Homo sapiens: one gene and its partners. The protein of the gene in region 3 purifies or fractionates together with the protein of the main gene of each other region. This does not show direct contact. Each region holds a gene or a part of one and is shown on either strand. Other genes may lie near its edges.

The links.
Region 1: the proteins of KLF6 (region 3) and USP26 purify together in Homo sapiens (affinity purification with western blotting; one study listed by BioGRID). This does not show direct contact.
Region 2: the proteins of KLF6 (region 3) and TPM4 purify together in Homo sapiens (affinity purification with mass spectrometry; one large-scale study listed by BioGRID and IntAct). This does not show direct contact.
Region 4: the proteins of KLF6 (region 3) and CNBP purify together in Homo sapiens (affinity purification with mass spectrometry; one large-scale study listed by BioGRID and IntAct). This does not show direct contact.

The regions. Positions count from the first base shown.
Region 1 is NC_000023.11:133,090,364-133,094,109, reverse strand, and holds part of USP26 (ubiquitin carboxyl-terminal hydrolase 26), read left to right. Parts: intron 1-2,666; 5' UTR 2,667-2,757; intron 2,758-3,346; 5' UTR 3,347-3,392; intron 3,393-3,746. UniProt on the Homo sapiens protein: Deubiquitinase regulating several biological processes through the deubiquitination of components of these processes.
Region 2 is NC_000019.10:16,078,091-16,086,480, forward strand, and holds part of TPM4 (tropomyosin alpha-4 chain), read left to right. Parts: intron 1-2,824; exon of another isoform or gene 2,825-2,862; coding exon of another isoform or gene 2,863-2,985; intron 2,986-3,822; coding exon 3,823-3,956; intron 3,957-8,332; coding exon 8,333-8,390. UniProt on the Homo sapiens protein: Binds to actin filaments in muscle and non-muscle cells. Plays a central role, in association with the troponin complex, in the calcium dependent regulation of vertebrate striated muscle contraction.
Region 3 is NC_000010.11:3,773,284-3,781,530, reverse strand, and holds the end of KLF6 (Krueppel-like factor 6), read left to right. Parts: intron 1-1,301; coding exon 1,302-1,425; intron 1,426-1,940; coding exon 1,941-1,992; 3' UTR 1,993-5,535; downstream 5,536-8,247.
Region 4 is NC_000003.12:129,167,637-129,175,811, forward strand, and holds the end of CNBP (CCHC-type zinc finger nucleic acid binding protein), read right to left. Parts: intron 4,136-8,175; 5' UTR 4,122-4,135; coding exon 3,998-4,121; intron 3,903-3,997; coding exon 3,810-3,902; intron 3,648-3,809; coding exon of another isoform or gene 3,642-3,647; coding exon 3,443-3,641; intron 2,935-3,442; coding exon 2,817-2,934; 3' UTR 191-2,816; downstream 1-190. UniProt on the Homo sapiens protein: Single-stranded DNA-binding protein that preferentially binds to the sterol regulatory element (SRE) sequence 5'-GTGCGGTG-3', and thereby mediates transcriptional repression. Has a role as transactivator of the Myc promoter.

The DNA of each region.
Region 1 (3,746 bases), on a different chromosome or scaffold from region 3:
ATAATCACTGAGAAACAAGATTTTTGCTTTGAGGATAAAGTGTAAGTATTTTTTTAAATGGTGCTGATTGAATTTACTTATTAGTCTTTGGCCTGGTTTACTCTTTTTTTTTTTTTTTTTTTTTTTTTTGAGACAGGGTCTGGCTTTGTTACCCAGGATGGAGTGCAGTGGTGTGATCACGGCACTCTACAGCCTCGACCTCCTGGGCTCAAGTGATCCTTCCACCTCAGCCTCCTGAGTAGCTGGGACTGAAGGCATATGCCAACCCACCTGGCTAATTTTTGTATTTTTTATAGAGACGGAATTTTGCCATGTTGCCCAGGCTGATCTCCAACTCCTGGGTTTAAGTGATCCACCCCACTTGGCCTTCCAAAGTGCTCAGATTATAGACGTGAGCCACTGCACCTGGCTTATATTTCTTTTTTGACATTATCTGTTAAATAATGCTATGAGAGTTGAGGATTTTTTTTTCTTTTTTGGACACAGAGTCTCACTCTGTCGCCTAGGCTAGAGTGCAGTGGTGCCATCGTGGTTCACTGCAGCCTTGACTTCTGGGCTCAAGCAATCCTTCCACCTCAGCCTCCTGAGTAGCTGAGACTATAGGCATGTGCCACCATGCCTGGCTAATTTTTCTTCCTCCTCAATAGACTTTAAGCTCCATGGGGGCAAGAACTTTTTTCTTCCGTGCTATAAACGTGGTGTCTCTAATAGTGCCTGATATATAGCAGGCACTCAAGTAATATTTGTTGAATGATTTAATCTAGTAATTTTTCTGGATACTGATTAAAATGTTTATTTAATTTTACTTTTTGTTTTTTTGAGAGAGAGAGGTTTCACTCTGTCACCCAGGCTGGAGTGCAGTGGCAGTAATCTTAGCTCACTGCAACCTCTGCCTTCCTGGGCTCAAGTGATCCCCCCACCTCATCCTCCCAAGTAGCTGGTAGCTGGGATGTGCACACCGCAATGCATGGTTTGTTGTCATTGTTGTTGTTTTGTTTTGTTTTTCTTTTTGTTTTTGAGAGATGGGGTTTTGCCATGTTGCCCAGGCTGGTCTCCAACTCCTGGGCTCAAGACATTCACCTGCCTCAACCTCCCAAGTGTTGAGATTACAGGCGTGAGCCACTGTGCCTGGCCTAGCCTGGTTTATTCTTGATTTGGATTTGAATTATATATATTATCTAGCATCTGAATGACTTATTAGTACCTTTATTGGTAGAAAGTTGGTGTTTTCCAAATATCCTTCTAGATTGAATTTAGAAACCTGAAAAATCAGTTGCTGGTAAGAATGAAAGTTACCTCTGCCTTTGCTAATATAAGGTGCCAAGATTTCAGGAATTAAGATATTAACTAGCCTCATAGATCCTGACTTTTTGAGCAGAGCCCTAGATCTTAAATAATAATTTAACCCTAGAATTTAGAATTTAGATCCAGGTATTAGGCCGAAGGCACTTTTCTTATGTCCACTTCGCCCATAGAATCCTAGAGGGGATATTTTCCAAAGAGCATACCCACAAAAGCCAATATTAGCAACTGTAAACTTTTGTGGATTATTTCTTTGAAGATCTATTCTCAGTGTCAGATGGCACCAACATTATTTAATGGTTGCAATTATTCGTGAAATTATCCTAAATGATACTAGCTTCCTTCTGATGTCCATGTTTTTCTAACTTACTGTGTTACTAATTACTTACACGAATACACCATGAGAATGCTATTGTATAAGCTGGTGAACAACTCAAACCTCCGATTTCAAAAATTTGTTATCTGTGATCCTGTATGAGTCTTTTTCACCATGGTAATGAATACAATCAACTGACATCTTTGAGACTCCCCTTTCTAGAAGTTGAGATCTTGCCTATTAGCTTAATATATAATTCCCCTATAATGTTTGATTAAAGCAAGATGAACTATAGTTTATTTTGAAGGGACAATCAAACCTCTGAAGCAATAGTCTTGTCTGATCTTGTAACCACAAGATTAATGCAGTTCCTATTATATTATGTTTCACCCTGTATGATTGGGTACCTTGATCCAACCAACCATTTTCAGAAGTTTCTCTGAATAAGTGGAAAAGGAAGTGTTCCCCAGCCATCCACCAAAATGAGTTCCAAGTTATGTAATTTTCCTGCAGTGGTGCTGGGCTGTCCATCCACAGGCAAGTCTCTTGGCAGATTCATACAGTCACCATCTCCTTCAGAACCTGTGATGGAAAAGTCCAGTACCAGTGAGCCTATGGTTCTGTAATGTGAAAAAGATGGAATTGGAATCAATTGTCAAGATCACCTAGACAAGTTCAGGGTGTCCTTACATTGTGTGAGGTGACTAGTGTCTTATGAAGGGCAGCCCCCTCCTCCTGTCCCCTGTGCATCATTAATGATGGCATTGAAACCCCTTCCTAGAGTTCTAGAGATAGGGACTACCAACAGTGGTAGTCACTCTTCCTAAGTACTGCTGACTCCATGATACTGACTCTGTTTCTACAACCTGTTCCTTTCATTAGACAGGGGCATATTTTTCTACTTCTTAATTGTGTTCCTCATGTACACTGTGGGTGCCGCTGTTACAGAGACATTGACAAACTTAGACTGTTCTGATTTCAAATAAACCTGATTTTGACTTTTTAACACCAAAGTTCTGATCTTTATTTCTATTTTTTGGAAAACCAGTAAGAGACAGCAGCAGGAGGGACTGGACTGGATTGTAGAAAACTTCAAGAGTTAAGGAGTGCGGAGTGCTGCTCAGGTGCCTTTGTTTCAGGTATGAGAATATGGGTCTGAAGGTAATTTGAAAGCCAGCCTTATATATACAAGGAGGGAAAAGATAGGTCCTGAGGACCAAGTAGGTGTCAGGGAATGGTAGTCTGCCAGCCTGCTCCACTTGTGACATTTATTTGCTAGGGTTCCTGAAGGTATACGCCAGCAATTAAAGTAATATGTAGGTTATTACTCCTTCAGATGTTTACTGTTCCATACATTGTTGTCCATTTCCTTGCTCTGCAGACATTGCTGGTATGACAAGGTTCCAGTTTCTGAGTCTGAAAGACACTGGGCTCATTTTCACTCTAAGGCAGTAGTCTGGCAGCTCAGCTGGTTTCTAACATAGTATTTTCACACTTTGTGACACTGTTAAAAATTGTCAATGAATTCAGGCATTGGAAGCTGGGGACAAAGATTTGGGGTTTGCATGCTAAGGCTCCCTAAGCCTTGTGTTTCCTGTCTTGTTACACAAAAGAAGTACAGTGGGATGAATGAATTTGGGTAAATAGATCATGACAAAAAGTGCTAATGTTATTTGGGTTATGTTGAATGCTCCCATATAATAAATGCTCTCTCTTGTGCCTGTCCAGGTCATAGTCTCTGTTCTATATAGCAGCCAACCACAAGGGTTGATTGGTAAGCATTCCTGCATCTGTGCTGTTCCCCCTAGATTGCTATCTGATATGTTTGTTTCAAACATGTGGAGATCCTGTGTCTGAACTTGATTTCACCATTGCTGTCAATTTTCAGGCAAGGTATACAGTAACTGGGTCAAAATTCCTTTCTGATGAATGATAGAATTTCATATCAATTTGGGATTCAAGCTTTCAGTACATGGGAATACCAAACCTTAGAGTGGGGATCTTCTAACCAAAGTTTACACTTCTGGAGTTGTTGCCTGCTATGGCATATGTTCTGGAATGTGGTCTTTCCCTGTAGCCATTTAACAGTAAGCCTTATGATTTGTACTTATTAATAACATCTGTAGAG
Region 2 (8,390 bases), on a different chromosome or scaffold from region 3:
CCCTGGGAAGAGCTCATAGACAAATGGAGGCAGGGGAGCTGACTCACTGATGGAGCGAGGTCTGCATTCCACGGGTTTTCTGTGCAGTTATGGGAGCATGACAGGGGAGGCTCCAAAATGGAGGTTGAGCTGGGTCTTATAGAATAAATAAGTTTGCTGGGACCAGAGACATGGGTGTGCACAGACTCAGAGGCAAGAAAGTTGTATGATGAGGGTGGGGGGGTGTGCGGATAGAGGTTGAAGCCCAAAAGCCCTGAAAGTTCAGTGTTGAGGCTCAGGGTGGGGACCCTAGAGAGGCAAAAGATGCCCAGCCAGATGGAATTGGTGGTGTGAATTGCCAGGACTGGAAAGAGCCCAGATGGGGGCTGCAGCATGGGCCTTGGTTGAAGCCTCTAATCCTGTAAGGGCTGCTTTGGCCCAAGAGGCCTTAGAAACCCGGTGTAAGCCTCAATCGGTAGCCGGTCTGGCCTCTTTCTCACACTTAACCGACACAGCTCTTGCTCTGATCTCATCCCAAGTCATCTCGCTGGAGGACAATTAACTCGGCTTCAAAATGGCCCTCAGCCTGGAGCCAAGATTTAGGAGCAAGACCGTCTAGTTGGGAGAGAAGATGTTTTTGGAGAGTTGAAGACTTCTTGAAAAAGTTCGAAAAGTTCTTGAAAAAGCAAAGGATGCTTCTTTCCGTCTGGGAGAGGGAAAACCTCTCCCAGGGCAAAAGGAACTAAGACCAGGGGTGGGTTAAAAAAAAAAAAAAAAAAACCTTTCACTCTTGTAGAATAAGCCAGGAGCCGGCGTGTGGTAGACTTCTGGGCCTGTTTCCCGACAGCTGGTTTCGTTTAGATTTTTGTGTGATTAACTGACATCTTCCTGTTCCTTTGCCACATGTATCTAGCAAGCCTCTTTTACCTTATAAGGGAAATCCTTTGTAGCGTGTGGAAGGCTTTGATTGCAGGAAGGGGTGGAACCCAAAATGACTCGGCCGTGACTAGCAGTTTTTCAAAAATACATATATATGTATGCATGTACAGATATGCGTGTATCTCCCAACTCCAGACAGCTGAAAATCTGCCAAAAGCGTTGTTTGCCAGGATTCAGAATTTCCCACATAAGGGCTACTCACTTCTTAAAAGACAACTCATGAATCAAGCACCTCTGTTTGATCTTTAAAATCAATTCCTCGACTGCTAATGGGTACACAGTTTTTTGTTTGTTTGTTTGTCTTTGGCGGGTTATGAAAATGTCCTGGAATTCGATAATGGTGTTGGTTGCAGAGTGTTTTTGCAACATCAGTTCCTGGCCCAGTTACTGAAGGTGGTAGGAGGAGTTAAGATCTAGGCAATTAAAAAGAATGAAAGGCACCCATTCATGGGAAGGCCTCAGTGACGTTTCTTAAGACAGTTTCATCAGTGGTTTTCACAATTCTCTGCATTTGGTGTTTCAGAGGACACTGCAATACGAAACACCTGTGGGAGTGCCCTCTTTCTGCTTCTAGGAATCTGAGGCTGAGAAACCTTCCTGACTCTATTTGTGTAGTTTTTCGGCCACGTTAGCCTCATTCTATTTTTTTTTCCCCCAGTATGAACTCAGGGCAGGAGAGGGAGTGGTTTCCTAATAATTTTTTTTTTTTGAGACGGAATCTTGCTCTGTTACCCAGGCTGGAGTGCAGTGGCGCGATCTCGGCTCATTGCAACCTTCACCTCCCGGGTTCAAGCGATTCTCCTGCCTCAGCCTCCCAAGTAGCTGGGATTACAGGCGCCTGCCCCCACACCCAACTGATTTTTTTGTATTTTTAGTAGAGATGCGGTTTCACCATGTTGGCCAGGCTGGTCTCGAACTCCTGACCTCATGTGATCCACCCACCTCCGCCTCCCAAAGTGTTAGGATTACGGATGTGAGCCACCGCGCCCGGCCTTCCTAATAATTTTGATAGCCTTCCCCAGTTCAGGGATTCTTCATTTGTTCTGATAGGAAAAAGCTAGCGTGGCTTCCCTTTTCCTCTCGGTTGAGGCCCGTTTGACCCGTTCTCAATATTCCTTCCAAAGAGCAGGCATCGCTGGAAAACTCGCCTTGCCTCGTAGCCCTGGCAGGACCTAGGGGACAGGTTCTGACAAGGAAGAGCCCTGGGTGGGTCTTAAGAGGCCATTCATTTCTTACCAATTCTGAGTCACTGAATAAAACCACTTCCCCCAGTGGGGCCCCTCGGTTTCTTCACCTGTAAAATGGGTGCGATGTGTGAGGATGAAATTGCAGTAAAATAAAACCGTGGCAGTAAGAGATGCCTTTCTCTGGCACATCCCACCTGCTGGGCATAAGCGGCGCCACCCTCTGGAGTTACAGCCTCAAGGCAGTCCGGTAACTAATCAGGCTTTGGGATGGAGAGGGCCAGGATGAGGAAGCAACCTTCCCAACACCACGTGGCTGTGAAAATGACAAAGCACGGTCGGGCGCAGTGGCTCACGCCTGTAATCCCAGTACTTTGGGAGACCAAGGCGGGTGGATCACGTGAGGCCAGGAGTTTGAGACCAGCCTGACCAACAAGACGAAACCCTGTCTCTACTAAAAATACAAAAAAATAGCAAGGCGTGGTGGTGTCCGTCTGTAATCCCAGCTACTCAGGAGGCTGAGGCAGAATTGCTTGAACCCGGGAGGTAGAAGTTGCAGCAAGCCGAGATCATGCCATTGCACTCCAGCCTTGGTGACGGCGCAAGACTCCATCTCAAAAAAAAAATTAAAAAGAAAATGACAAAGCGGGGATTCCAGCCCAGCACTTTTTGGCCCTGGAGTTCCTGGTTTAATGCTTCCCATTGTACTTCCTTTCTTGTAGGTAAAAACACCTTGAAAAGCCAATAACACTATTGGGGTATGTCTTCCATGCCTGCAACCAAGTTTTCTTTCCCTTTCCATATCTTTTTGTCCTGCCATCTCTCAGCCAGGCGGATTGAAGGATGGAATTCCAACGAGGCTCCCCCGCCTCGTCCCACCTTGGTAATTGCATGGCCAACATTTAACTGAGGGCTCCATAGTCTTGCATTTATCTTGCCATTCAGGTGAATGGGAGCGGAACTCACAGGACACAATGAGCCGGGTCACTGATGGCCTTGCTTTCTAAGAATCTCACAGTGAGCCCTAGAACTCTCTACGTGGTAACACTGTGTGCCTTTTTCAGAGAAGAGCCTATCTTAGATCTTAGCCTAACGTTGGGTCTATTGTGTTGCTGGAGAGACCAGCACTGACATTCATCTCAAAGCACATGGTATGTTTGACTCCTATGTTGACTCAACTACCCATCTTGTACTGGGACACTCGCTTTTTTTTTTTTTTTTTGAGACGGAGTCTTGCTCTGTCACCAGGCTGGAGTGCAGTGGCACGATCTCAGCTCACGGCAACCTCCGCCTCCCGGGTTCAAGTGATTCTTCTGCCTCAGCCTCCTGAGCATGTGGAACTACAGGCACGTGCCACCACACTCAGCTAATTTTTCTATTTTTAGTAGAGACAGGGTTTCACCACGTTGGCCAGGATGGTCTCGATCTCTTGACCTTGTGATACACCCACCTCAGCCTCCCAAAGTGCTGGGATTACAGGCATGAGCCACCACGCTTGGCGATGCTCATCTTTTGCTATGGAGTGGTAGATGTTTTTCCCAGACATTTTCCGGGAAGATCATACTGAAATTTTGGTATGAGTGTAAATTCCCTATGGCCTGGACTCCTGGGTGGGCTTTGACGGGGAAGATCAGGTTAACAGAGGGCAGGACATGGGGGAGGCTCCCACTGGTGGCTGGCCTGATACTTCTTAACATGGCTGCACCTCCGACCTCCCCAGGCTGAAGGTGATGTGGCCGCCCTCAACCGACGCATCCAGCTCGTTGAGGAGGAGTTGGACAGGGCTCAGGAACGACTGGCCACGGCCCTGCAGAAGCTGGAGGAGGCAGAAAAAGCTGCAGATGAGAGTGAGAGGTAAGGACGCTTTGAATCTGGTGGCATCCGTGTTTGCTTTTAGAAAATGGGGATCATGCTGCCGACCTCGCAGAGCTGGTGTGAAAGTAAACAAGGTCACAAGGACATGCATGTGTCCACAAAAAAGTGCATGACAGCACTTTGTAAACCATCACTCCATGGGTAGAGATGTTTATCCGTGGCCAGGCACGGTGGCTCATGCCTGTAATCCCAGCACTTTGGGAGGCCAAGGCGGACGGATCACCTGAGGTTGGGAGTTTGAGACCAGCCTGGCCAACATGGTGAAACCCCGTCTTTCCTAAAAGTACAAAAAAATTAGCCTGCCATGGTGGCGGGCACCTGTAATCCCAGCTACTCAGGAGGCTGAGGCAAGAGAATCTCTTGAACCCAGGAGGCAGAGGCTGCAGTGAGCCGAGATCGTGCCATTGCACTCCAGCCTGGGCAACAAGAGCAAAACTCCATCTCAAAATAAAGTGAGGGGTGTTTATCCTTACGGTAACCATGAAAAGAAACTTCCGACAGACAGAAAGGCAAACAGAACGGGCAGATGTGAGACTGCAAGTATGACTGTCCATGGTGGTCAGTTTGCAAAGCACTGCTTCTCGTATTTTCTCTGAAAGCCACAGTGCCTCTTAGTGTTCTCTAGACACCAAATTTCAGGTAGGCCGGATGCAGTGATTCCTGCCTGTGCTCCCAGCACTTTGGGAGGCAGAGGCGGGCAAATCGCCTGAGCTCAGGAGTTCAAGACCAACTGGGGCAATGTGGTGAGACCCTGTCTCTACAAAAAATACAAAAATTAGCCGGGTGTGGTGGTGCACGCCTGTACTCCTGGCTACTCAAGAGGCTGAGGTGGGAGGATCACTTGACCCCAAGAGTTTGAAGCTGCAGTGAGGCAAGATTGTGCCACTGCACTCCAGCCTCAGTGACAGATGAGATTCTGTCTCAAAAAAAAAAAAAAAAAAAAAAAAGCAGAGTACTGTGGAGAGGAGGAAAGGAAACTTGGGATGCACAGGTGATTGTTAGCAGAGCTGTCAGGCTTTAGGCTTTTGGACGGTGACAGCTATTTCAGGGACAGTTGCAAACCAGCATGGTTAATGTACTTGCAACTGACCATGCACCAGGTGCCGTGGCTCACGCCTATAATCCCAGCACTTTGCGATGACGAGGCGGGTGGATCAACTGAGGTCAGGTGTTTGAGACCAGACTGGCCAACATGGTGAAACCCCGTCTCTATTAAAAATACACAAATTAGCTGGGCGTGGTGGCGGGCACCTGTAATCCCACCTACTCAGGAGGCTAAGGCAAGATCCCCCAGCTTGAACCCAGGAGGCAGAGGGTGCAGTGAGCCAAGATCGCACCACTGCACTCCAGCCTGGGCAACAGAGTGAGACTCTGTCTCAAAAAGAAACTGACCACGTTCCTCACCCGCCCATGGTATCTGTGCTGCAACCCAGCCACCAGTAGGGTGCCTTCTCCTCGGTAGCCAGATCATTCTCTGGCACGCCTTGGCACAGGCTCTCTGGAAGACTGAGGGTAGATTGTGTAATTCACAGAAGCAGCAGTCTGTGTGTGGTGGAAAAGGAGTTCCTTGTGTGGCAATGGTGTGGGCCCGACCAGTGATCATCGCGTCTGCCCCTCATTCACACCGGAGTTCTCACTTGAGCCAGCCACCATGCTTTTGCAGTATAAACACCTCCCAAAGATTCATTTCTTTTTTTTTTTTTTTTTTTGAGACAGGGTCTTACTCTATCACCCAGGCTGGAATGTAGTGGTGCGATCACAGCTCACTGCAGCCTCGACCTCCTGGGCTCAAGCGATCCTCCCGCCACGGCCTCCAGAGTTCCAGAGTAAAGCTGGGACTACAGGCGCATGCCATCATGCCCAGCTAATTTTTTTTTGAGACAGAGTCTCGCTCTGTCGCCCAGGCTGGAGTGCACTGGCGTGATCTCAGCTCACTACAAGCTTCACCTCCTGGGTTCACGACATTCTCCTGCCTCAGCCTCCCAAGTAGCTGGGACTACAGGCACCCGCCACCACACCCGGCTAATTTTTTTGTATTTTTAGTAGAGACAGGGTTTCACCGTGTTAGCCACGATGTTCTCAAGCTCCTGACCTTGTAATCCACCTGCCTTGGCCTCCCAAAGTGCTGGCACGCCTAGCTAATTTAAGATGCATTTCTGGTTGTGCTGCTGTGACCACTAACCAGAGATTAGAAACCAGCTAAGGAATCTTGGAGATTGCATGTCACCCAAGCTGGAAATTTCTTCCCAAGTAGTGGAACAGCCAGGGCAGAGGGAACAGACGCTACTGCAGACTCTGCTTCAGCCACTGAATCAAGGGAGAGAGTGGCAGCTCCGGCAGCCACGGGGCAGTGGAAGGACCCAGTCACGAGAGTTCCTGGCTGTGCCTGTGGCCTGGGTTAGCTGCTGTTCACAGTCAGACCAGCCTGGCTGGATGCTGACGTTGAGGGCTCCCATATTGGCAAACCAAGGGAGGCTGCGAAGGCCAGTCTCTTGTTTGCACCATGTCCCCAGAGGCCTTTGGTGACACCCCTGTTAAAGACTGCTGTGTCTCAGTAGAAAGAATTATATACTTGAAGCTTGGGGATCTAGAGTCAGCTTCTACCACTGGCACTTTCTATGGAGCCTTAGGCAAGTCACTTTGATCTCTTGGGTACTACAAGGGGTTTTGGGGCAATAAATAACCCAGAGAGCTTGCTCACATGCTGAGGGTGAGACCTCGTACAGGTGGGGGAGGGTGTTTTGAGACTTAGCTGAGAACGGGTGACACCCCACGTGAACATATTTATTGGACAGCAAGAAGCATATGGTCTCTGTGCTGGGTGGGAATGATACATATCAATGACACATTATCCCAGGCTGGCCTCTTCTTTTCTTTTCTTTTCTTGTTTTAAATACACAAGGTCTTGGCAGGGTGCGGTGGCTCACACCTGTAATCCCAGCCCTTTGGGAGGCGGGCGGATCGCTTGAGCCCAGGAGTTTGAGACCAGCCTGCGCAACATAGTGAGACCCCATCTCTACAAAAAAATATTAAAAATTAGCCAGGCATGGTAGTGCATGCTGGTAGTCCCAGCCACTCAAGGGACTGAGGTGGGAGAATCACCTGATCCCAGGAAGGCAAGGTTGCAGTGAGCTATGATTACACCACTACACTCCAGCCTGGGCAACAGAGTGAGAACCTGTCTCAAGAAAAAAAATAAATAAATACACAACGTCTTGCTCTGTCACCCAGGCTGGAGAGCAGTGGTGCAATCACGACTCACCGCAGCCTTGAACTCCTGGGCTCAAGCGATCCTCCTACCTCAGCAACATTGCAAAACCCCCACCTCCACAAAAAATTTTTTTTTAGTTTAGCTGGGTGCAGTGGTGCACACCTATAGTCCCAGCTACTCAGGAGGCCGAGGCAACAGGATTGCTTGAGCCTGAGAGGACAAGGCTGCCGTGAGCTCTCAGGGCACCACTGCACTCCAACCTGGGCAACAGAGTGAGACACCATCTCTCAAAATAAAAGAAAAAGAAAGGGGGCACAGACTCTGGAGTCAGACTGCCAAGGGCTGAGCCTCAGCTCTACCACTTACCAGCTCTGTAACCTTAAGTTACTTACCCTCTCTCTATGCCTTAGTTTCTTCATTTGTAAAATGTGGATAATTTACCTGCTCCATAGGGCAGTTGTGAAAGTGAAGGCACTTAGAAAAGTGCCTGGTAGTAAAGATGAAGGGAGGCTGGGCGCGGTGGCTCACACCTGTAATCCCAGCACTCTGGGAGGTCAAGGCGGGCAGATCACTTGAGGTCAGGAGTTCCAGACCAGCCTGGCCAACATGGCGAAACCCCCTCTCTACTAAAAATATAAAAGTTAGCCGGTCACGGTGGTGCATGCCTATAGTCCCGGCTATGCTGGAGGCTGAGACAGGAGAATTGCTTGAACCCAGGAGATGGAGGCTGCAGTGAGCTGAGATCACACTACTGCACTCCAGCCTGGGTGACAGAGCGAGACTCCATCTCAAAAAAAAAAAAAAAAACCAAGATGAAGGAAATGTGTGCACAGAGTTCCATCTTTGCAGTGTGTTACAGTGCTCAGTAGATTCAGAGACTCATTTAGATGAGAGATGGGACTAGGGGTGGTGTCTCACGCAATTAGCCAGACATGGTGACGGGTGCCTGTAATTCCAGCTACTCAGGAGGCTGAGGCAGGAGAATCGCTTGAACCCGGGAGGTGGAGGTTGCAGTGAGCTGAGATCGTGCCACTGCACTCCAGCCTGGATGACAGAGCGAGACTCCATCTGAAAGAAAAGATAGATGAGAGGTGGGTGGAGGGGTGTGAGTGAACGGCCGTCCTGATGAGATTGCTCCTTGCAGAGGAATGAAGGTGATAGAAAACCGGGCCATGAAGGATGAGGAGAAGATGGAGATTCAG
Region 3 (8,247 bases):
ATCCTCACTTCCTCAGATGTTTTCCACCAAAGCATTAGGTCTTTTTGGAGTTCAGAGTAGAATCCTAAAGACTGGACTTTTGAGTTGGATAAATGTGTAACAATTTTCAGATTAAACAAACAAGAGACTAGATCCTTTTCTCCACGGACACCCAAACCTCCACCCCCCACCCCTTAGTAGTGCTGGGGATCCGAGGCCACTGCCCCTTCACCAGTGCACTCGCACGAGGCTACCTCGAGCGGCCCTGGGGTTTCCTAAATGAAACTCAAGGGTCAGGACAGAGGGTTGCTGGGCAGCGTGGAGTGTGTGGGTTTGATGCTGACGGCCCGAGGCCCGAGTGGGACCGGCCTGCTCTGTAAGCAGCAGCATTGATCAGCGAGTGTTTCCTGAGAACTTCTCCGTGTCTCATGCAGCCTTTGTTTCTGATACCGCTTGAAACAGTTTCTTAATGAAATGCCATACCTAGGTGAAAGTGCTATTTAAAAATACCTTGACATGTTCTAGGATAATTGGTGAGGAATCACAGAACATTTAGAACTGGGAAGGGTCTTAGTGATCACGTGATGCAGGCTCTTCTCTTATCAGTAGGAGAGCAAATTGCTGAGAGTCAGTCCCAGACAGGCTTGGTGACAGCTGAGATTGAGATCCGGGTGGCCCAATATCCAGGCCCAGGCCTGTCTCAACATACCCTGAGATTGGCTTGACAACTTTGTTTTCTCAGGTAGCACTTGTAGTAAATTCATATTTATGATTTGACCAAGGAATGAAGTGAACCCAGTTGTTCAATTGCCATTTAGAGAATGATTCCGGGGCCCTGTACTGGGGCTTTCCAGAAGCTCGTAACTTCAGCTTTGTAGAAAGGTAGAACGTCCCTGAGGAAACTGCAGAGGCACATTCCATAGGGAAGTGAGGATGGAACAGAAGTGTGTTTGGGAGAAACAGTTGCCATGAAGAAAGCAATAGCTCTGCCTTTGCCGGGGCTGTGGGTCCGGCAGGCTGACACCTCATCCCGCAAGCATTTTGCTGGTCTGAGTCGTGGTCGTTCTTCCACGTTAACTTTGATGACAGCACCATGGGCTTGGCTGAAGCTGTGTCCCTTGGACAGCAGTGGGAGGCCTGAGACTGGGTCAGGAGAGAGCTGCTGTTGTCTCTCTGAGGCTGCCAGTTGTTGTGTGTTACCGATGCCAGAAGCCACTGGGTCCCTGGCCTTGCATCCCACCACTGTGTGTGTTGTTGAATTTCCCCTTTCCGTCTGCGGGTCAGTGAAGTCATGGGCTGCTTGTCCTGTGCTCTCTCCCCAGGAGAAAAGCCTTACAGATGCTCATGGGAAGGGTGTGAGTGGCGTTTTGCAAGAAGTGATGAGTTAACCAGGCACTTCCGAAAGCACACCGGGGCCAAGCCTTTTAAATGCTCCCACTGTGACAGGTACGTGCCTGAGGACAATGCTGGGCAAGGAGCGTGGGGCCTTGGGAATGTGATGACCAGGGTTGAGTAGGTGTGCAGGGCACATTCGAAGGAAGGCATGCAGTTTCCTATGTGTGAACATTTCTTTTCAAGCCTGGGACTTTTTAGAAAGTTTCTGGTGTGCTCATTGTCCATGGTTAGGAAGAACTGTTCCACATACACCTGACATTGGAGTCAGTTTATTGATATGTTTGGAGATTGGCCTTTCAACAGTTTTCATATTTGAAGAATTAGAAATGAAGTCCGTTCAGATTCTCCAAAGAACCTCCAGCCACTGGTGGGGGACATTCTTAATTCACATTCCTATCAGTTGGTATCTCCTGTCCCTGAAGACACTGATGAGGCTTGGGAGGAGAATCCCACCTTTCCCTGCAGGGGGTTAGGCTGGGCAGGGCAGGGAGGTGAGGGCGCTGGTCCAGAACACTGGCAAGGGATGGGAACCTAACTTCTTCTGTGCTTCTGATTTGCCCTTGCAGGTGTTTTTCCAGGTCTGACCACCTGGCCCTGCACATGAAGAGGCACCTCTGAGGGAGCAGAGAGGTGGATCCTGTAGGCTAAAAGGCTTCCAGGCTGAGAGCCGGCCGTGGAAGGAGGGATGCGTGTTCCAGCCAAAGCATGCCGTTCTGCACCCTACCCAGTTGCCTCCAGGGCCTCTCCTTGGAAGGTCTTTTGAGGGCTAAAAAGGTCCTGTAAGAAGCGGCATAGCACCCGTGGTGCATGGTATGTGGGTGACCCTGGACTCGCCACTGGTACCCGCCCTTCCGAGCGGCGCCTAAGCCTTTGCCGTGAGCATGCACACTGAGAATGCTAATGGTTGGGTTGATTGTATGTTGAGGATCTATTACTGACCGTATGATGAGGCCAACTTTTTTTCCTTGTGGTTAGCAAGACTGCAAGAGATGGAAAAAAAGTAGTTTGAATGTTTTGTGTGTAAGGAGTATACCATGAGATGAGATGACCACCAATCATTTCCTTGGGGGGAGGGGGTGTCTGCACCTTAGAAAAAAAAAGAAAAATCAAAAAAACAAAAAAACAAAAACAAAAAAAGAAGGAAAATCTTGGAGGGTGGGCGTGGGAACTCAGGACCCCAGAGTGGCGAGTGGTGTGGGGAGGGAGAGCCTCTCTCCCCCTTTTCTGTGTGAGAGGAACTCTTAGTGTCTGGTGCAGCTATTAAATGTGCAATGTGTCAAGTAGCTTGTTTTACACGCTACAACATAGCTCATTTGTAACCCATTGTATAAGCTGTGTATTTACAAATATAACACAACAATTTAACTTTTCCTTAGAATACAAAAAGTCATGCATGGTCTGGGGAACTATATGCTTTTCCATTTTTAAGTCAGGACTGCAATACTGATTCCAGTTAATGAGCAGCTAAGATCCAATCTGTCTAATACAGTGACCCCCTAGCCATCCGGGCCTGGCAATATACAATTTTTTTTCCCCTCCAAGTTTGTAACACTCCCCTTCCAGAAAGGCATTGTGCAACACAGGATTATTTTTAAATGATTCTGAATTTGAATTAACTTTTTGGAGAATTCTGTGATGCCCTTAGAAGAAATTGGACACGTATTGAGTGTCACAAAGCTGGGGCTGGGAATTGCTGGTCTAATGTTTCATTAGACTTAAGAACCTAAAATTTTTCTCAGTTGGGTGGATAAAACCACTAACGCTTAGAAACTGTTTTCTCATGCAGCTATGTTTCTCTTATTTATGCCTTGAGGACTAATTTCTGGTTTTCTAGCTGTTAATGCACTGTTGACCTTCATAATGGTGCCTTACGCAAGCGATCCCTTCTGTGGGGGTCTCATACAGGGGTGTGGGCGATGCATGCTTTATTAAGGCTCTTGTTTCACCTGGCAGTGTACTGTATCAACGTATAATACAGAAAAAAAATCTCTTTAAGGTCCTCCTTCACAAAGACATAGAGTGAAACTCCCTTTACATGTCAGTATTTGTTCAACACTTTAGGCAACTTGACTGTCAGTGTTAAAATGGAAAACAGGAAAATGGAAAAATCTGACCAATTCTGCCACCTTGAGACTTTCATATAGACCTTGCACAACAATTGTATAGATCACACACCGGCTGTATTTAATATGTAACATTTTCACACATATTAAAGATACAGAAGTATTAAAAAACCCCCAATGTTAATGTATTTGCTTAAAAGGCACAAGTTTCACATATCTGTCTAGCTATCTGTTGGTAATACAGAAAGTATACTACTTTTTTAAAAAAGTGGGCAGAATTCTTGTGTATGTATATTTGTGTGTACAGTATGTGTATGTGTGTATATATATATATTATATATATAGATAATATATAAATATTTTTTTTAAGGAGAAACTAGAATGTTTAGCTAGAAAATTCCACAGCCTGTGAAGAAATATTTCAAAATGGCCATAAAGGAGGTAAAAATGAAAACCATAACCTAACTTTTATAGAGGCTTTATCTTTAATTTAACGATGTGCGGAGGACTTTCTTGCTTGAATCTGTTCCGGGCTGTCTGCTCTGTCCATCAAATGGGCAGGTCTGGAATGGGGCACCTTCGGCCGTTCAGAAGTGGCCTGAACAGAATGCTGGAACCCAGGCTGGACTCGGACACACTAAGGTTTTGATTTTGAATTTCAGCCTTATTAGAAGATCTAACCTAAGAGTAAGCTAACCACAGGGATTCTTTTGTAGAACACTTTTTATGCAGATGAAGCTATTTTTTCCAGCAAGTAGATTCTTCCAGTTTTTCCAAGGAGTAATTTCCCCGAATTGGCATACCACGGCGTGGACAGCTGATATTTCACCCAGCTGCTGGCTTGTGGGTGTGGCTCTTTGCTTTATATATATATACACACATGTGAGTCTGGCTGGGCTGGTATTTTGTTTGATCTTCCTGGAAATGAGCAGTGACTAACGCTCACATAACTGGTTTTTTTTTTATCTGGGCTGATGAATACATTTACCTAAGAAACTCATTTCGTTTTACTTAAGAGGGGAAGTGCAGTTTTCTTTTGGCAGTTCAGAATCCAAGCACTTGATTTGCTGGGTTTGGAAAACTCCTTTTTTGGCCTTCTATGTGCTTAGCCATAACAATTCCATTAAGCAAGAAGGTAAGCAAAAGACAAAAAAAAAAAAAGGAAAAAAAAAAACTTGCACTGGCTTGTCTCACTTACGAAACATGTCGGAGCTGTTTGCCTGGGTGGGGCTGGGTACCGTACCTGTCAATGCCTGTGATTTTCATAATTAGCACGTACATAAAGAAGTACATTCTGTTCAGGTGATAACTGAGCCTCAATCAAGCAGAAACTTTTTGCTTGAAATTAAAAAAAAATTTCTATTAGTGAAATTTCTTTTTTTTTTTTTTTTGGAAGCACCCTGTTATCTAAAGAATCTTTGTAAGATTTTTGTAAAATTTTGTTTTACAAGATTTTATTTGAAATTGTTTTTTGCAAGATTGTTATATTTCTGTATGAATGTATTTTTTATTGGAATAACATAAAAGAATTCTTATCAGCATCTTGAGTCTGGTTGTTTTTTTTGGGGGAAGGGGGTTGTTGGAACAGATTCCTCCTGCATTCATCACCCTGGCTTCCTCCTGGGGGCAAATCTTCATTGAGCAACCCTGAGAACAACTCACCGACCTCAGCCCCTTCCTCTTTCCACAGCCTGTCCTGGGAGCTGGAGAGGATGTCAGCGAGCCTGACATTGCCCTCCCTGAATGCATCAAATACTCTTCTCCAAGGACTGACAAAAACAACCCCCCGGCTGTGGGCACAGTAGGGAACCATGCCGGTTTGATCTTCCATTGCTCAAGCCAGGGAATGCATTGCAGAGGCACCTGCACAACGACAAACTTGAGTGTTTCCCTGCCACTTCTGTGCCTCCACAGCCTGCTCCAGTTCCGCAGCTAGAGCTGGGCCTACCTTCCCCAGCCAGCCCTGCCACACACCTGGCTGAGGCATGTCTGGGAGGGGTGGAGGAGGCAGAGGGACTCCAGGCCAGAGGGCTGTTCTCACAACCTCAGCCCACTCTCAGTCAAGGAGGGCAGAAAATAAAAGATGACATCACTGCCAGAGGAGTTACATCTCTTTTTTTTCTTTTAAGGCCAATAAGATACATTAAATGTAGAGTTTGTTTGAAAATAGGCAGCCTTTTGTTTTTTAGAGCAATGTTTAGCAAGTAATCTCAGCTTTGCTTTACTGTGTGGACCAGGACAATTTGATCCTTGTAGGAGTCCATTTTCAGATTACACTAAGCCAATCAGTAGCAATGGGGTAAATCAATGTGTTTCCGTGGGAACCAGCTTCTTAGTGTGACAACAAGGATATTCTACTTGAGGTGGCTTAAGCGCTCACTCCTCTCCATAGCTCTTCATTTTGCTAAACGTGGGGAATTTACAGTGGTTGCTTTTAATTTTATAATTGGAGAGGGGATGGATGTTAAGATGTGTGCCCAGACTAGGAATGTTCATTAATTTTCTTTCTATAACTGTGGTAAAAATGTCAGCAGTTTGGAGGGAGCTGTGGTAGGGCAGGACGTGGGGAGCAGACGACATTATTGCCGGGATTCGTGGGCGTGTTCTATCCCCAAGCACATGTCAACATGACTCATGGTTGGATTGCCCCGAATGTACAGTCTAAATTTAAAGTCTTGATAGTCATTCGCGGCTACTATTAAGACTTGACCACTTTGTCATGGAAAGACTATGCAGGACAGCTAAGTTATGTTCAAATAAGGCTGTTAGCGCTGCCGTGCAAGGAATCGGCTGCAACCTTAGGGTATTTATAGAAGTATAAAAAATTTCAGTCTGCTTAACAAATTTTTTGAAACCTAGCTAAAAGAAGAAAGGAAATGTTCTAGCTTGAACGAGCTGTGTGCTTTGGACAATTTGCTGAGCTACACCGACCCTCAGTTTGCTTATTGCTAAAATAGGGCTAGGTCACGTGGATCCAGCATTCTCGATAGCACTACAATTCTGTGGTGTGTAAGTATAGGGTGCACTTCAAATTACACGTTCGCCATCTTCAGAGTGCTGGCCTCAGCTCGAGAAAGCTTTCTCTTGTGCTACATGAAAGAATTGTTGAGGAAAACTGTGCTCAAATGGAAACTAGGACTTTCTCAGATTGCCCTTTGCCCGTCTAATTACAGTTAAGTTATTTAGACATTTGTTGCGTTATAGCATACCATTTTTTAAATTAAAATCACCATTTTTGAAAAGTGCTGTTGTAGCTGTAAATGGACCCAAAGTCTCCCAAGTGTCCCCACTTTACCGGCCCCGTTCCCTATCCAAGTTGACCTGAGTGCTCAAAGGACAACACAGGCAATCGGAGGAAAGTGTCTTCCTTTTCTGCTGTAATTGCTACGGAGAAAGAACACAGCTTTCACACCTAACTCCCCTCTTTTCTGTTAATATTATGCCACCAGGAGCTACTTTTAAACAACCATCCTTGCCAAACGGAATTACTTTCCTAGCAAAATTTCATGATGATGCAGATAATGGTGTCTGCTTCCTACTTCTTGTGCTGTAGATTACAGGACCCCAACCCCCAGGCCACGGATCGATACTGTTCCAGATCAGTGGTGGCATTAGCTTCTCAAAGGAGCATGAACCACCCTATTGTGAACCGTGCATGCGAGGCATCCAGGTGGCATGCTCCTTATGGGAATATAATGGCCTAATGCCTGGTGATCTAAGGTGAAACAGATTTATCCCCAAACCGTCTCCCACCCCCACCTATCCCTACCCTTCTCCACCCCCAAGTCCCACCATCCCTGGTCCGTGGAAAACCTGTCTTCCGTGAAACCAATCCCTGGTGCCAAGAAGGCTGGAGACCGCTGCAGTAGATGTTATATCTATTTCACAGATGAGGAAAACTGAGGCCCTGAGAGACAACACAACTTTCCTGAGGTCACAGCTAGGAAGCAGCAGGCTCAGCATACTGGTCCAGGTCTCTTAGATGCGAAAGACCGTGCTTTTTGTCACCATCCCACACTGCTGTCTCGCCCAACCTTTGCTGTTCGATCTGCAGCAGCCACCATAATATGACATTACATGTATGAAATGCAGACAGGGCTTTCTCGCAATTCAGAAGCACTCCAGCTACAAATTGTGCTGTAATCCTGAGAAAACAAAAGTAACCATTTTGAATTGCTTTCAAGATATGAGACAGATGGCACATATTTATTTTTAATGTTTAAGAAGATAGAGAAAGCAATTGGAGATGTGACATCCTGCATTAATTGGCATGAATCACCTAATGCACACAGTTAAGATACAGAGAGACGAAAATGAGGCCCATGCATCACGCAAATGAGGACCACAACAAAGTGTGTTTAACTAGATTTATTTTATAACAAGGTCTTTCTGTTTCTAAGTAATTTTAACGAGAATTCTCTAAACGTCTGTGGATGAAGAGACAAAGAGGAGAGTAAATATGGGTTCCACATGTCCTGAGAGAAGCCACGCCAGGCGGCACGATCACCACAGAATCTTAAAAGACAGATTTAACCAGAATGCCCATTGGCCTACGAGTCCCGTTCAGCTGCAGTTGCTAGGTTGCATTTACTTTCCTTTACATGATCTGTACAAAACACTGTAAGTGTGTGTGTGTTTGTATTTAAATATATGTGTATGTATATATAAAATGTACATACATACACACAAATACACATGTATGTATATACATTTTATATATACATATACAAATATATATATATACATATACAAATATATATATACATATACAAATATATATATACATATACAAATATATATATACATATAC
Region 4 (8,175 bases), on a different chromosome or scaffold from region 3:
TCCCATTTGCTATGTTTTAGGTTTTCCTACATGAGGCCCAGAATTTGGGGGGAAATAACTCCATGTGCACACCAGCCCCCAAACCTCATTTAACAGTGATGCCTTCAAAAATAAATCTTTCCCCCAACCTAACAGTGATGCCTTCGAAAAAAAGTCTTTCCTTATGCTGTTTCATACATATGGTAGAAAATAAAATTGTCAAGATATTTATTGTGTTAACATGTGAGACATACAATTTGCTCAGTAAAAATAGCACATGAAAAAATATTATAAGCTTATATTCATAAAGAAATGGGTATGTTATTACCTCTTTTTCTTGCTTGCTCAGGACTATTAATTTGACAAGGTTGGAATGTGCACAGCACAGCTGAGACACCACCATTTTAACACTGAATCACTATACCATGAACTGACAGAACCCTGCATGAAGGATGAAAAACTCATACCCAAAGTCAAGAATCACACAGCAGCATGGAGGGGGAAAATGAACTATATGATGCTAACCGCATTTAATTTCGAAGTGGGGGGAAACAGGGCATGGGGAGTGAATAATGGTTGAAGTTCCAGGCTCTAACTGTACATCCTTAAGTAAATTAAGTTTAACTCATCTATTAAAAAGTGAGTTAAAACAGATGAGTTTTAAGGTCCATCTCAACTCTAAATGAGACACTAGCAAAAACAAGGAATCCACCACTTCAGATCCTTATGAAACCCAGGAAAAGGTGGGGCACAGTGGCTCACCTGAGGGCAACAGTTGGAGACCAGCCTGACCAACACAGTGAAACCCCATCTCTACTAAAAATAACAAAAATTAGCTGGGTGTGGTGGCGGACACCTGTAATCCCAGCTATTTGGGAGGCTGAGGCAGGAGAATTACTTGAACGGGGTGTGGGGGTGGGGGGTGGAGGTTGCAGTGAGCTGAGATTGCACCATTGCACTCTAGCCTGGGCAACAGAGCGAGACTGTCTCAAAAAAAAAAAAAAAAAAAAAAAAGGCCCAGGAAAAACACAAAAATAGCAATGGTATTAAAACTGTTCAGAATCGGCCAGACACGGTGGCTCGCACCTGTAACACTAGCACTTTGGGGGGCGGGGCAGGTGGATCACCTGAGGTCAGGAGTTGGAGACCAGCCCGACCAACATGATGAAACCCAGTCTCTACTAAAAATACAAAAAATAGGCCGGGCGCGGTGGCTCACGCCTGTGATCCCAGCACTTTGGGAGGCCAAGGCGGGCGGATCACGAGGTCAGGAGATTGAGACCATCCTGGCTAACACCGTGAAACCCCGTCTTTACTAAAAATACAAAAAAAAAAAATTAGCTGGGCGCGGTGGCGGGTACCTGTAGCCCCAGCTACTCAGGAGGCTGAGGCAGGAGAATGGCACGAACCCAGGAGGCGGAGCTTGCAGTGAGCCGAGATCGCACCACTACACTCCAGCCTGGGCAACAGAGCGACACTCTGTCTCAAAAAAAAATAAAAAAATAAAATAAAAATAAAAATACAAAAAATTAGCGGGGGGTGGTGGCGGGTGCCTGTAATCCCAGCTACTCAGGAGGCTGAGGCAGGAGAATTGCTTGAACCCGGGAGGTGGAGGTTGCAGTGAGCCAAGCCTGCACTCCAGCCTGGGCGACAAGAGTGAGACTCCGTCTCCAAAACAAAACAAAACCACCACCACCAAAAAACCTGTTCAGACTGAACACAGAACTCAAGGGCATTATTATAACAGATTACAAAGTGAATTTTCTATAGCTTTGCAAAAGTATCTAAATCCCATACATCCTTTTAACAGCAATTTTCATTATTGAAGACATGACTTAAGTACAAAAAGAAAAGTCCAAACTGTCAGCTTTCAGTCCTCCACATTCCCCTCTTTAATATGGTATTTTGCACTATATACATTAATGAAAATTTGAAACAAACAAAAAGAACTTTAGTCAAACTCCCCTTCCTCCTCCAGCTTTATTGGAATAGTTTAAAATTACATTTCTATTTTCTAGGACTTCAGTTGCTCTTTCCATCTGACTTTTAAAAACTGATTACAGCAAATGAAACACAGTTGTCTAAGTGATATAGTATACAAAAATAACATCTTGATTTCTGTGAAAATGCATTTCTCTGCAATTCCTGAATAGCTCCAAATTATGCTAACTCTGAGCATTGATGTTTACTCTGGGTTTTAGATTTAGTCTTTGAAAATAATGTGTTCTAAACCTTTGCCATCACCATCTATGTGTCCAACATCAACACTGTGATGAAGTTGTTCCTGTTTAGGCTTTTATTCCGATTTCTCTCGAACAGCCATTAACACGCATGTTTATCTTTTTGTTTACTCCCACTCAACTGTATGTTCTATGTAGGGCCTGATACAGATGTTACTTGATGTTATTTAATAGCTACTGAGGTCAGACAATCCAAGACCATCATTATACTAAAATTAAAGTTATTTATGGAAGTTCATAGACACTTCCAGAATTGGTTTTACCTCCTACATGGGAACATGTTCAAGGAACCCAGGACGGGCTTACTGGTCTGACTCAACTCTTCCCATTCATCAATCCCTATTCACCAGTGGCACGGAAAGGGGGTTCTTTAACAAAGCATTATACATAACACCTCTACCAAACTAAACATAAACTTTTTTTGTAGTTAAATGCAGAAAGTCGGTTTTTTTCCACCCCTTTCCTCCTTTTACACGGCAAGTAAAGCTCACTGGCCTGGGAGTTGCCTCTATCTGCCAACCTTTGGCCAGTGAAGAGGATTCAGAGAAAATAATACAACCATCAATCAGAAAAAGGAGGGGCGACAAAGGAAAATAATTAGGCTGTAGCCTCAATTGTGCATTCCCGTGCAAGGTGCCCTGACTCGCCACAGCGGTAACAGTTGACTTCACTTGTCTTGCTGCAGTTGATGGCTACATGACCAGTTTCACCACACCTAAAAAAGAAATTAAAAGTTTTCACAATGGGCCTCAGAAAAAAACTGTCTACCAAAGCAACAGTCACCATGCAGAACAAAACGCCTGATCTTTGTTTTCATGCAATTAACCCCTAAGGTTTCACAGATATGTACACAACAACATTTATCAAATTATACACTTACATGTCACAAACAGGCAAAGATTTCTGGTTACATGATAAAAGATTTATGTATATTACAGAGCTTTCTATGAAGTCTCTGGAAGTTTCAAATTATAACACTCTTACTTTTATATATTAAAAAAGTCCAGTTGTGAAAACTGCCCAGGTACCATAAGCCACAGGATATCAGGGCAGAATACAGAATTATATACAGATAGACTGCCAGTTACATATGCTGAAAATTGGTCTTATCTGGTCACAGCTAAGTTTCACTGAATTTACTAAGGCCCTTCCATTTATAGCTAATTCATCTCTGGAAGAATCTCTGCAATGAGTTTTCTTCTAACAACATTCTGACACCTTACCTATAGCACTTCACTTTGGTGCAGTCTTTTTGAATGTGTCCGAATTCTCCACAAGAATAGCATTTCTGCTCATCTGCATGGTCGCAGTCACGAGCCAGATGGCCTGGTTTGCCACAGTTGTAGCAGCATTGCTCTCGCTCTCTCTTGGGCTCCTTGCAGTCCTTGGCAATGTGGCCACCTCTACCGCAGTTATAGCAGGCTTCAACAATAAGGAAAAGAAACAGGCCAAGACTATAAAACCTTTACAAAGTGTTACGTTTTAAATTATACAATACAAAACCTCAAAGGTGGAAATGCTATACACAGTTGCATGTGCTCACCTCTCCAAGCTCTAGAGGGGTATGAAAAGGAAGTGTTAAATACTTACCATCCTCCTGAAGATCACAATCCTTGGCAAGATGACCAGACTCACCACAGCGATAACAAATGTCTGGAAGAGACGAGGAAACAAACTGGAAACCTGTTTTGAGCAAAAACAAAGAATTCGGCTAGTCAGACCAGTCTTGATACTAACAAATACTGAAGTACTTCAAATTTTTCTATTCGACAAAATACCTCTATCCGAGGTAAAACCACCTCTGCCACGGCTTCTCATTCCACGACCACGGCCTCCACCAGTAGGACATTCCCGGGCCCAGTGGCCAGATCGTCCACACTTGAAGCACTCATTGCTGCTCATGGCTGCAGTCAGATCTTTGAAATATTAAAAGTAACAGCATTAAACCACTGAAAGTTCTTTTAACTTTTATTCTCTATTAAATGTATTTTTGGAAAATTATTCTGGGGAAAAAAGCTAGCTAATATATTGGTTAAAAAAATAGCTGGGCATGGTGGCTCACGCCAGTAATCCCATCACTTTGGGAGGCCGAGGTGGGTGGATCATGAGATCGAGACCATCTTGGCTAACATGGTGAAACCCCGTCTCTACGAAAAATACAAAAAATTAGCCCGGTGAAGTGGCAGGCGCCTGTAATCCCAGCTACTTGGGAGGCTGAGGCAGGAGAATGGTGTGAACCCAGGAGGCGGAGCTTACAGTGAGCTGAGATGGTGCCACTGTACTCCAGCCTGGGCAACATTGAGACTCTGTCTCAAAAAAATAAAATAATCACACAACTACATGATTGGGTATTATAGACTTATTATAATATACACCTTGATAAAAGTGATGGAATTTACAGGGTTAGGGTCAATGAAAATCCATTAAGAGAAATAATTGGTAGTGGCTGGGCACGGTGGCTCATGCCTGTAATCCTAGCACTTTGGGAGGCTGAAGCGGGTGGACCATCTGAGGTCAGGAGTTTGAGACCAGTCTGGCCAACATGGCGAAACCCCGTCTCTACTAAAAATACAAAAAACAGCCGGGCATGGCGGCATGCGCCTGTAATCCCAGCTACTCAGGAGGCTGAGGCAGAAGAATCGCTTGAACCCGGGGGGTGGAGGTTGCAGTGAGCCGAGATCATACCACTGCACTCCAGCCTAGGGGACAAAGTGAGACAGACAGGCAGGCAGGCAGGCAGGCAGGCAGGCAGACAGGCAGACAGGCAGCCAGGCAGGCAGGCAGGCAGGCAGGCAGGCAGGCAGACAGACAGACAGACAGACAGACAGACAGACAGACAGACACACACACACACACACACACACACACACACACACACTGGCAGTAATACTCATTCACTCATTCCAAGTCCAACTTAATGGACACATTTGCATGGTTATAAGGCCTATATAAGCTTTATTTTGGGCAAATAGAAGTCATTTATTTACTCACATCAAAAAATTGGAATAACCCAAACCAATGAAGCTGTAAAATGGATTCTCGGAGTGAGGAGTCAGTGAAGGAAAATACTCTCTTAACCTTAGCACCTGACGTAGTACCTAGTTATACTGCAGCACTTGCCTGGTGACTGAGATATTCCTTAGAACAGATATGTTAAAACAAATGCAAGATACAAATCTTATCTCTAGATGGTACAAGTACAGTAGGCCCTCTATATCCATGGGTTCTGCATCCATGGCTTCAACCAACCTTGGAATAAAAATATTCAGTGGAAAAGTTGCATCTGTATTGAACATGCAGACTTTTCTTGCCATTATTCCCTAAACAATACAATGTTAACAACTACTTATTCAGCATTTACATTGTGTTAGGTATTATAAGTAATCTAAAGATGATTTTAAAGTATATGGGAAGATGTGCAAAGGTTGTAATGCAAGTACTACACTATTTTATATTGGGAACTTGAGCATAGGAGGATTTTGGTATTTGAGGGAGTTTGTGGAACCACTTCACAGATACCAAGAGATGACTGTATAATAAAAATAGTAGGAAAACGACCATGAGTTACACCAAAGCGCTAATAATAGCACCTACAGCACTGGCAACATTTGTGTTTTGTTTTCTTTTATTCTCCCCTTTCCAAATGTTTCTGTAATGTAATTTTACATTTTAAACAATGCTACTTAGAATTTCATAATAAACTCCTTTAATTGGTTATCATTTTAAAATAAAAATAAAACTCCCACTAAAGCAAATGGATTTTGTACTTATGTAACAATCTAAAAATAAATTGAGGCTATTCTTAAAATAGAATGAAATGGAATAGAACATAATGAAAACAATGCAACTACATTTTCACACTTCCATATCTAAATATTTTTACCCTTAATTCCACTGTCAAACAATGGCACACAAAGTCGTATTTTAAATATCCTCTCAAACCTAAGCACAGGCACCATCATCTAGAAAAACATATTTCCAACTGAGTAAAACTTGAGTGGATAATCGAATTAGCTAACCTAACCACAGTGCCAAAGACCCAAAACGCAGTCCGAAAAATGGCAAGGTTCTCCACTTTCAGTAACTGTTTAATCATTAACTTGTGGACAAATTTAGTGACTTAAAATTACACTGAAGTTGAGTTTCAAAAAGTTCCCATTGTCAAATATACAAAAGAAAATAACACAATACTCACTTACCCCAACTCTGTGTAATCTGATTTAGGATAAATTCTTAGAGAAATCTTTCTACTAACTCTTGCCACTTGCCTATGAACATATTACCAAAAAAATTATATGGCTATGAGTTACTGGTGCTTTCAGATATACAAAACATTTCTAGTCAGAACAAACAGCCAGTGAAGGATATTAAAAACAGATTTTTACAGAATTTGAAATAGTATCTGCTTTGTAATCATTCTTTTAACTGTACTAGTATTAGCATCCTAAATTATGTGAAGTATTTGCTGGTTTCCACCACAGAAGAGTCAGAATTAAAAAAAAAAAAAAAAAAAAAAAAACGAATGGCGGGCAGGGCACGGTGGCTCACACCTGTAATCCCAGCACTTTGGGAGGCCGACGAGGATGGTTCACCTGAGGTTGGGAGTTCGAGACCAGCCTCACCAAGAAGGAGAAACCCCGTCTCTACTAAAAATGCAAAATTAGCCAGGCTTGGTGGCTCATGCCTATAATCCCAGCTACTCAGGAGGCGGAGGCAGGATAATCTCTTGAACCCGGGAGGTGGAGGTTGTTGCAAGCCAAGCAATTGCACTCCAACGTGGGTTACAAGAGTGAAACTCCATCTCAAAAAAAAAAAAAAAAAGGCATATAAAATGGTCAAAGAAAAAAGGCTGCTTATGGCACCACTTCCTCCCCATCTTCATTTTGTATCTTCTCCAATTTAGTCAGATCAGCTTGAGCTCATTTAACTATTGATCTCAAGGAATTATTTGCACATAAATGATTACTTTTACAGTGTAATCCAGACAATTTGCAAGGCCTGAATATCTTATAATTTAATATTTAAACAAGATACATCTCTTTTAGAAAATACAAAACAAGGATGGGCACAGTGGCTCACACCTGTAATCCCAGCACTTTGGGACGCCAAGGCAGGAGGATCACCTGAGGTCAGGAGTTGGACATCAGCCTGACCAACACAGTGAAACTCCATCTCTACTAAAAACACAAAATTAGGGCAGGCGTGGTGGCTCACGCCTGTAATCTCAGCACTTTGGGAGGCAGGCGGATCATGAGGTCAGGAAATCAAGACCATCCTGGCCAACATGGTGAAACCCCAAATCTACTAAAATAAAAAAATTACCCAGGCGTGGTGGTAACGCGCCTGTAGTCCTAGCTACTCGAGAGGCTGAGGCAGGAGAATCGCTTGAACCCGGGAGGTGGAGGTTGCAGTGAGCTGAGACTGGGCCACCACACTCCAACCTGGGTGACAGAGCAAGACTCCGTCTTCAAAGAAAGAAAGAAAGAAAAAAAACTATTCTGTAAAACAGATATGCATCTCAGTGGCAAAGGCAGAACTTTACACACTAGAATATAACAGAAGTTTTAGATGTTTTGCTTTTTTTTTTTTTTTTTTGAGACAGTCTCGCTCTGTCACCAGGCTGGAGTGCGGTGGCGCCATCTTGGCTCACTGCAACCTTCACCTCCTGGGTTCAAGCGATTCCCCTGCCTCAGCCTCCCACATAGCTGGGACTACAGGCGTGCACCACCACGCCCAGGTAATTTTTTGTATTTTAGTAGAGACGGGGTTTCACCATGTTGGCCAGGATGGTCTCGATCTCCTGACCTAGTGATCCACCCGCCTTGGCCTCCCAAAGTGTTAGGATTACAGGCGTGAGCCACTGCGCCCAGCCTGTTTTGCCATTTTTAGTCACACATAATTTTGTTTACTAGAGTAAATTAATGCTAATAAAGAAAACACTAAGTCTTAAAAGGGA